Linked DNA regions of Homo sapiens: region 1 is reported to be linked to region 2. Evidence: microRNA targets listed by miRTarBase, many of them from high-throughput screens and not tested one by one. Region 2 holds a microRNA gene; the other region holds the end of a gene's coding sequence.

Region 1 (4,382 bases), not on the chromosome of region 2:
CCCCATCTCTACTAAAAATACAAAAACTAGCCGGGCAAGTGCCTGTAGTCCCAGCTACTCGGGGAGGCTGCGGCAGGAGAATTGCTTGAACCCGGGAGGCAGGGTTGCAGTGAGCCAAGACTGCACCACTGCACTCTAGCCTGGGCAAGACAGTAAGACTCTGTCTCAAAAAAAAAAAAAAAAGAATTTCACAAAGAAACACAGAAGAACAAACATGGAAAAAACTAAAGTATATACATTTTTAAATACTGAAATCCACTGAGCTTCTTTCTGTCATGGATTCATTCAAAAATATGCCGCCACCTACACAACAAAAACTGATCATTTCAGGTGTGCATGGATTTCTGGGGGTCAGAAGCTCACTGGGAGAATTTTTGCTTTTGTATTTTCATTTGTATAGTCTAAAAAATAAAAAATATTGAGTCTTTCTTGATCACCTGGATAGATACATTAGTTGTAAGATTTCTAGCAAGGGGCTCTTTTTTTTTTTTTTTTTTTTTTTAGAAAACAGAGTCTTACTCTTGCCAGGCTGGAGTGCAATGGTGCAATTCGGGCTCACTGCAACCTCCGCCTCATGGGTTCAAACGATTCTCCTGCCTTAGCCTCCCGAGTAGCTGGGATTACAGGCACCGGCCACCACGCCCAGCTAATTTTTGTCTTTTTAGTAGAGACGAGGTTTCACCATGTTGGCCAGGCTGGTCTCAAACTCCTGACCTCAGGTGATCCACCCACCTCGGCCTCCCAAAATGCTGGGATTACAGGCATCAGCCACCGTGCTCAGCCATCCTAGCCAGGCTCTCTCAACTTCAGTTCCTCATCTGTAAATGAGAACAGCAAGCCTATCCTCGTGAAATTATTCTGAAAATAAAATGATATAGAACAAGAAGTACTTAAAGCATAGCACACACTGAGCACTCATTATCTGTTAACTTCCTTACTTCCCCTTGAATTGTTTATTTTTTTAACCCAATGCCATTTTCTTTTGACCTGCCTCTTTCAGAGTAGGTTAGAGTTTGTCACCCCCAAATTCATGTAAGATCAGCTATATTACAGAATTTTTTTTTTAATATCAAACTCTCAACTTAGTTGGAAAATATAAAGACATTCAATCTGTTTTGTTCTACCTTCTGAGCTGGTATAAATATTGAGAATTTACTTGGAACTATTTTTAAAGTGCTGTGGCACAGTGCACATATAGCTGAGTTAGAAGCACATAAAAGGAGCAAATAAATGTATATTTTTAAAAACTGAGAGCAGGACAGTATAGTATAATTCAAATGAAGGATCTCTATGAAAAACAATCTGGGCAATCCCCCAGAGAGAAAGATTTTTCTATGAACATACTCTCCATAGAAAGATTTAACACTGCAATCTGGGATTGAGGATTTTGCTATGCTTTGGGCCCATAATTCCCAGCTGAGCAGGTGGTCCTAGGTTGTTAATATGGTCTGCAGTACACAGTTTCTGCTGAGACTGCTTTTTTGTCTTTGCTTTTGTCATAATTTTGAAATACTAAGCTCTCTGCAGTAGAGTCTTCCTCCAATCATGACAGCCCTAAGAAATAATTTTCCATGATTTGGTATCTCCCTGAGCCTAGAAAACATCCTTGAAATGTTTGCTGTGTCCCCTTCCTAAGTACACACCATGACTCATCTAGAAAAAAAGAACTTCAGAAATCTAGAGTAAGCAATCAGAAGACATGACCTTTCCAGAAGGCTCTATCAGGAAGCCCAAGGGTTACTCATATTTGCAAGCGTGAGAAGGTCAATGTTGGTGGGTCAGTTTTCTACCTGCATTCAAGGTTATCCACTGGTAACAGTTCATTTTAACTAGCAATAGCTGTTATCCATTGCTCAGATAACTCATCTGCTGTCCCTGCTCCCAGATGGTACAGCTGCTCTCTTCTCTGGATTTTTGCAGCACTTTGTTCAAACCTATAGCGAGGCCCTAAATGGGCTGTATTTTAACTGTTATGTTTACGTATTCTCCCCTACTAGACTGTACATGTCTTGAAGGCAGAAGCCACACTTTTGGGTTTTTTTTTTTAATTGAGATAGGGTCTTGCTATGTTGCCCATGCTGGTCTCAAATTCTTGAGCTCAAGCAATCGCCCACCTCGCCTTCCGAAAGTGCTGGGATTATAGGCATGAACCACCACGCCCAGCCAACAATATTGTTTATATTCCCAACAACAAGACATTGGCTGGCACATAGAAGGGGAGGGAGGAAGGGAGGAAGAGGATAACTCAAGTCTTAATCAGGTGTCTAATGAGTTAAATTGTATTAAAATAACAGAACAAAGTGGTTCTTAAAAGTTTTTCACTGTTGGGAGGCCAAGGCGGGCGGATCACCAGGTCAGGAGATCGAGATCATCCTAACACGGTGAAACTCCGTCTCTACTAAAAATACAAAAAATTAGCCGGGCGTGGTGGCGGGCGCCTGTAGTCCCAGCTACTCGGGAGGCTGAGGCAGGAGAATGGCATGAACTCGGGAGGCGGAGTCTGCAGTGAGCCGAGATCGCACCACTGCACTCCAGCCTGGGTAACAGAGCGAGACTCCATCTCAAAAAAAAAAAAAAAAAAACAGAAAAGAAAAAAAAAAAGTTTTTCACTGAAATAAACCTCACTGTCAACTTACCACTACCAAAATGATACCTTACCTGAACTAACAGAACTGTTTTTGAGGCAGTATCAAAGGAAAGGATTTAGGTAACATATTATAAGTAAATGACTAATTCATGTCAGAAAAGGAAGTATAGTCACTTCCACATTATTGCATCCACTTTGCACATAGATGCTCTAACTCTTATACTAGATTTCTGCTGGTTAGTATAAAAATGACAGCTTTCCAAGTGGTGACAGGAAGAGGTTGGTCCTAGGATATCCTTCCCCCAAATAGGATGAGATCTCCTAAGGTTCTCTTTTCTCTACCACCCAGAACATTACATTTTGCAATGCAAAGGCAAAGATTGCATGCATTCATCAGTAAGCTACATGGGATACCGGAAGGAGTACGGGGCCAAGAACACCGCTAGACTAGGGCACTTCACTGCAAACACTTAACTATGTGGCCAGGGAAGGCCAATGGATTGTTCTAGGCCTCTGTTGTCTCATATATAAAGTAACAGTGTTGACATACGGTATGGAAAACAGCCATATATTTATTAAAGCTTTAGAACTCTGCTTGGGAGGGAGCGATTTAGGGGAGGGCGTACCATATGTGATGAAGGCCAAGCAGAGAGGGCTTTTCAATTTCTGTCCATCAAAAAAAACTCCAATTCTACTTCTGCTTTATATACCAAGATTCTTTTTGTAAGAGTTTGTTTGGGAGAAGGGAGAAAGAACTCTACTGCTAAAAAAGTGAAAATGGCAAATGAACCAAGCAGCATCCCATCTTATATTTTAAAGTCTTCTCCCAAGTTAACCCAATTTCCCCATTTATTTCTACTTTAAGGCACATATTAGCAAATGCCCACAGTCATTCATCCAACATACACTGGATGCTATCAAATTTAAGTGCTATGAAAACAATGGTCCAGCATTAAAAGTCATCTGAGATCAAAATCAGAAAAAAATTAACTAACAAATCTAAAGGCAAAACCTACCATTTATGTCTCTTCCAAAATCTCCGAGTTATTTTCGTGGAGTTATTGGTACAGAAATTATTGTACTAGCTACAAACATTAATTTTCTATTACCTTAATGATTTGAAGAACAGAAAGACAAGGCAATGACCAAGAGCAGTAGCACTGATGAATTATGATGATATTAATGCATACTTTGCAGACCAATGGAAAATTCTGCAAATGTCAATAGCAGTATGGGAGCCTGGCCAACCATGATCAAAACCAGTCCCATCCAATTTCTCTTCCTAAAATCAACATTATAGGACAAGGACTATGATCATCACTTACATTCTTTTAGTCTCCTACTCCTCAATTAAGTAAATGAGAATGATTCAGCCAACAAAGTTCATGACAACAAGGTGCAGGATGGTGCTGGCAAAGAGAAAATCAGCAAAGGCTCGCTCTGGGGAGATGCCTTGGAAATCCGCTTTGTTCTGTGGGTTGATCTGTATTCTCAGGCAAACTGCACAAGAAGCAAAACACAAAAAAATGATTATATAGAAGTATAAAATAAATATGCTAATGAACACAGACATACCCGAGGACCCAACAATTCTACTCTAACAGAAATGAATGCATATATACATCAAAGGGCATACACAGAAATGATACCCAGATAGCCCCAAACTGGAAACAATCTAATGTCTATCAACAGTAAAATGGATAAATTATAGCATATACAAACAATAGAATATTATACTGCAATGAAAAAGAACTTCTGCTATACACAAAAATGGATGAATTGCACAAGTAAGTTG
Region 2 (4,391 bases):
GTGCTGGGATTACAGATGTGAGCCACCGGGCACCGCCTATCCATGTTCTTTTTTGTTGTTGGTGGTGGTATTTTTAATTAAAAATTTTTTAATTTGGTAAAATATACATAACATAAAAATTACTATTTTAGGCCGGGTGCAGTGGCTCACGCCTGTAATCCCAACACTTTGAGAGACCGAGGCGGGCAGATCACCTGAGGTCGGGAGTTTGAGACCATCCTGGCCAACATGGTGAAACTCCGTCTCTACTAAAAATACAAAAATTAGTCGGGTGTGGTGGCGCATGCCTGTAATCCCAGCTACTCTGGAGGCTGAGGCAGGAGAACTGCTTGAACCCGGGAGGCGGACTTGTGGTGAGCCGAGATCTCACTACTGTACTCCAGCCTGGGTGACAGAGTGAAACTCTCTAACAAACACAAACAAAAAAGCCCACAACATTTTAAGCACTTTTAAGCGTACAGTTCAGTAATTTAAAGTTCACGCACACTGTTGTGCAGCCGGTCTCCAGAACTGTTGTCATCTTGCGAAACTGAAGCTCCTTGCCCGTTAAACAACTCCCCAATTCCCGCTCTGTCCCTGCCCAGGGCGTAGGGATATATGTGTTTTGTTCAGGGGTGGAGCTGGGATTTGAACCCAGGCAGAATGTAGTATGAGAGCAAATGAAGGAAGGAAGGAAAGATCACACCTTGCGGCTGGGAGCACTGTGAGAAATCAGGGAACGTGGGGTCTGGAAAAGCTTTGGCCTACCCCGCCTCAAGCATCCACCCCTATTTTCCGCCTACAGCCTCGGCCACCTTCGAGGACTTCCAGATCCGCCCGCACGCCCTCACGGTGCACTCCTATCGGGCGCCTGCCTTCTGTGATCACTGCGGGGAGATGCTCTTCGGCCTAGTGCGCCAGGGCCTCAAGTGCGATGGTGAGAGCTAAAGGGTTGGGGGCGGGGCCTGGGGCGGGGCTCTGCACCGGGGGCGGAGCGTAATGGTCCTGGCACGGGGACAGCGTGGGGAGGAGGAGCGGGTCTCAGAGCTGGGGGCGCAGCCTAGGAAGTAATAATGGGAAGAAGGATGGGCCCAGAAGCAGAGCTTGGGGAAGGAGTGGTGGGGCTGGGCCGGGGCTCAGGTCTAGGGGCGGAGCCTAGGAGGTGGAGCTGGGAGGGACAAGTAGGGGCTTAAGAACAGAGCCTAGGGGAGCAGAAGGGTGGCGGGGGAAGAGGGTGGGGCCTCTATCAGTTAGGGATCAAGCAGAGAAACATCCAGGAGGAGATATATATTGAGATATTTATATGCAAGGAATCAGCTTACAGAATTGTGTGGGCTGGCTAGGCAACTCAAATCTGGCTGGGCACAGTGGGGGAGGCCAGTAATCCCAGCACTTTGGGAGGCAAAGGTAGGTGGATCACTTGAGGCCAGGAGTTCAAGACCAGCCTGGGCAACATAGCAAGACTCTGCCTGTACAAAAAATAATTAGCCAAGCATGGTGACAGACACTTGTGGTCCCAGCCACTTGGGAGGCTGAGGCGGGAGGATCACTTGAGCCTGGGAGCTCGACACTGTAGTGAGCCCTGATTGCACCACTGCACACCAGCCTGGGTGACAGAGCGAGACCCTGGCTCAAAAACAGGAAAAAGGCCGGACACGGTGGCTCATGCCTGTAATCCCAGCACTTTGGGAGGCCGAGGCGGGTGGATCACGAGGTCAGGAGATTGAGACCCTCCTGGCTAACATGGTGAAACCCCGTCTCTACTAAAAATACAAAAAATTAGCCGGACGTGGTGGCACACGCCTGTAGTCCCAGCTACTTGGGAGGCTGAGGCAGGAGAATTGCTTGGACCTGAGAGGAGGAGGTTGCAGTGAGCCGAGATTGTGCCACTGCACTCCAGCCTGGTGATAGAGTGAGACTCCTTCTGAAAACAGAAACAAAAACAAAACAATAAAAAGAAAAAGAAAAAAAAATCCATCCTATCAGGAAGGGCAAGTGGGAACTCAGGCACAAGCTGAAGCTGATGTCCACAGGTGGAATTTCTTCATCCGAAAAGTCTCTGATCTGCTTTTTAAAACATTCAGCTGATTGAATGAGACCCACCTAGAACAAGCAGGATCACCTCTCCCACTTACAGTCAGCTGATTATGGATTTTCATCACATCCAGAAAATACCTCCACTGGGCCGGGTGCGGTGGCTCACGCCTGTAATCCCAGCACTCTGGGAGGCCGAGGCAGGTGAATCACCTGAGGTCAGGAGTTCGAGACCAGCCTGTCCAACATGGTGAAACCCCGTCTCTACTAAAAATACAAAAAAGCCGGCGTGTTGGTGGACGCCTGTAATTCCAGCTACTCGGGAGGCTCAGTCAGGAGAATCTCTTGAACCCGGGAGGCAGAGCTTGCAGTGAGCTGAGATTGCACCATTACACTCCAGCCTGGGCAACAAGAGCAAAACTCTGTCTCAAAAAAATGAAAAGAAAAGAAAATACCTCCATGGGGCCTTCTCTTCCCAGTTCTTCCTGGAGTCGGGGAAAAGCTGGGTTGAGAAGGTGAAAAGAAAAAACAAACCTTGACTGGGCACAGTGGTTCACACCTGTAACCCCAGCACTTTGGAGGCTGAGGCAGGCGGATCATGAGGTCAAGAGATTGAGACCACCCTGGCCAACATGGTGAAACCCCATCTCTCCTAAAAATACAAAAATTAGCGGGCGTGGTGGCATGTGCCTATAGTCCCAGCTACTTGGGAGGCTGAGGTAGGAGAATCACTTGAACCCAGGAGACAGAGGTTGCAGTGAGCCGAGATCGTGCCACTGCACTCCAGCCTGGCAACAGAGCGAGACTCCGTCTCAAAAAAAAAAAAAAAAAAAAAAACCACAAACAAACCAACCTTCATGGCAACATCTAGATTAGTGTCTGAATAACTGTGGATCTCGCCTAGCCAAGCTGACACATTAACATGACTATCAGGGTCCATCTCTTGTCAACCTGGCACCTGTCTTAGTTTGTCAGGGCTGCCTTAACAAAATACCACCCTGCGTGGCTTAAATGACAGACATTTACTTCTCAAAATCCCTGGAATTGTGAGAGGCTGGAAAGACAAAGATCCAGATTCTGGCAGGGTTCTGTTTCTGGTGTAGCCTGCTTTCCTGCCTTGCAGAGGGCCATCATTTCACTGTGCGCTCACATGGGACACGGAGAGAGAGATCCCTGGTATCTCTTCCCTTTATAAGGAAGGCCAGGCATGGTGGCTCATGCCTATAATCCCAGCACTTTGGGAGGATGGTGGATCGCTTGAGTCCAGGAGTTCGAGACCAGCATGGGCAACATGGTGAAACCCCGTCTCTAAAAAATACAACAAATTGGCCAGGCATGGTGGTGCATACCTCTAGTCCTAGCTACTCAAGAGGCTGAGGTGGGAGGATCACCTGGGCCTGGGAGGTTGAGGCTGCGGTGAGCCGTGATCATGCCACTGCACTCCAGCCTAGGTGACAGAACACGATTGTCTCAGAAAAAAAAAAAAAAAAAAAAAAAAAAAGGTCACCAGTCCCATTGGATTACAGCCACACTCTTTCGGCCTCAATTAACCTTAATTACCTCCATAAAGGCACCGTCTCCAGATATAGTTGCATTGGAGGTTAGGGTTTCAACATAAGAATTTTGGGGGAGACACAGACATTTAGTCCATAACAGCACCCATACATATCTCCTTAAATCATAGTTTAAAAATATACAGGTTTTCTTTTTTGGAGACAGCGTCTCAGTCTGTCACCCAGGCTGGAGTGCAGTGGCGCGATCTCAGCTCACCACAACCTCCACTTCCCAGGCTCAAGCGATTCTCCTGCCTCAGCCTACCGAGTAGCTGGGATTACAGGCACACACCATTACTGCCCGGCTAATTTTTGTATTTCTAGTAGAGACGGGGTTTCACCACGTTGGCCAGGCTGGTCTTGAACTCCTGACCTCAAATGATCCACCCGCCTTGCCCTCCCACAGTGCTGGGATTACAGGCATGAGCCACCGCGCCTGTCCAAAACATACAGTTCTTTAAGCCAAGATGTCTCAAGGTTCAGCCCAAGTGTCAAGATCTATATAGGTCCTCTGTCCCTGTTATTCATGCTTCTGAGTGAGAATGTTGAAATCGGGGCTCTGCCTACAGATGAAGGCCATGTACCTGCATTGGCTATGAGGACAGATGACAGGTGAGGACCATCCATTCTGTGATGAGACCCTGTGGCTCCATTGTTTTGTGTGTGTGAGACAGAGTCTTGCTCCGTCACCCAGGATGGAGTGCAGTGGCGTGGTCTTGGCTCACTGCAACCTCTACCTCCTGGGTTCAAGCAATTCTCCTGCTTCAGCCTCCCAAATAGCTGGGATTACAGGTGCGCACCACCACTCCTGGCTAATTTTTGTAT

The links. The annotated mature microRNA hsa-miR-320e reads AAAGCUGGGUUGAGAAGG and lies in region 2 at 2,512-2,529, shown strand. An mRNA with a match to its seed (bases 2 to 7 or 8) in the 3' UTR can be bound and repressed. Matches are read on the target gene's strand: a 7mer-m8 pairs with bases 2 to 8, a 7mer-A1 pairs with bases 2 to 7 and ends in A, and an 8mer does both.
Region 1: the mRNA of DAD1 is a reported target of hsa-miR-320e. The part of its 3' UTR that is shown has no 7-base or 8-base seed match.

Annotation. Positions count from the first base shown.
Region 1 is chr14:22,571,147-22,575,528 of GRCh38, forward strand. It overlaps DAD1 (defender against cell death 1), which reads right to left. Exons shown (of 3, transcript NM_001344.4): 2 at 3,913-4,087. The coding sequence ends at 3,957. Among named protein-coding and RNA genes, the nearest start is that of DAD1, 16 kb to the right of the region's middle.
Region 2 is chr19:46,707,432-46,711,822 of GRCh38, reverse strand. It overlaps MIR320E (microRNA 320e), which reads left to right and starts at 2,469; the gene lies at 2,469-2,541. It overlaps PRKD2 (protein kinase D2), which reads left to right. Exons shown (of 18, transcript NM_016457.5): 3 at 785-916. RefSeq lists an enhancer at 1,156-1,974.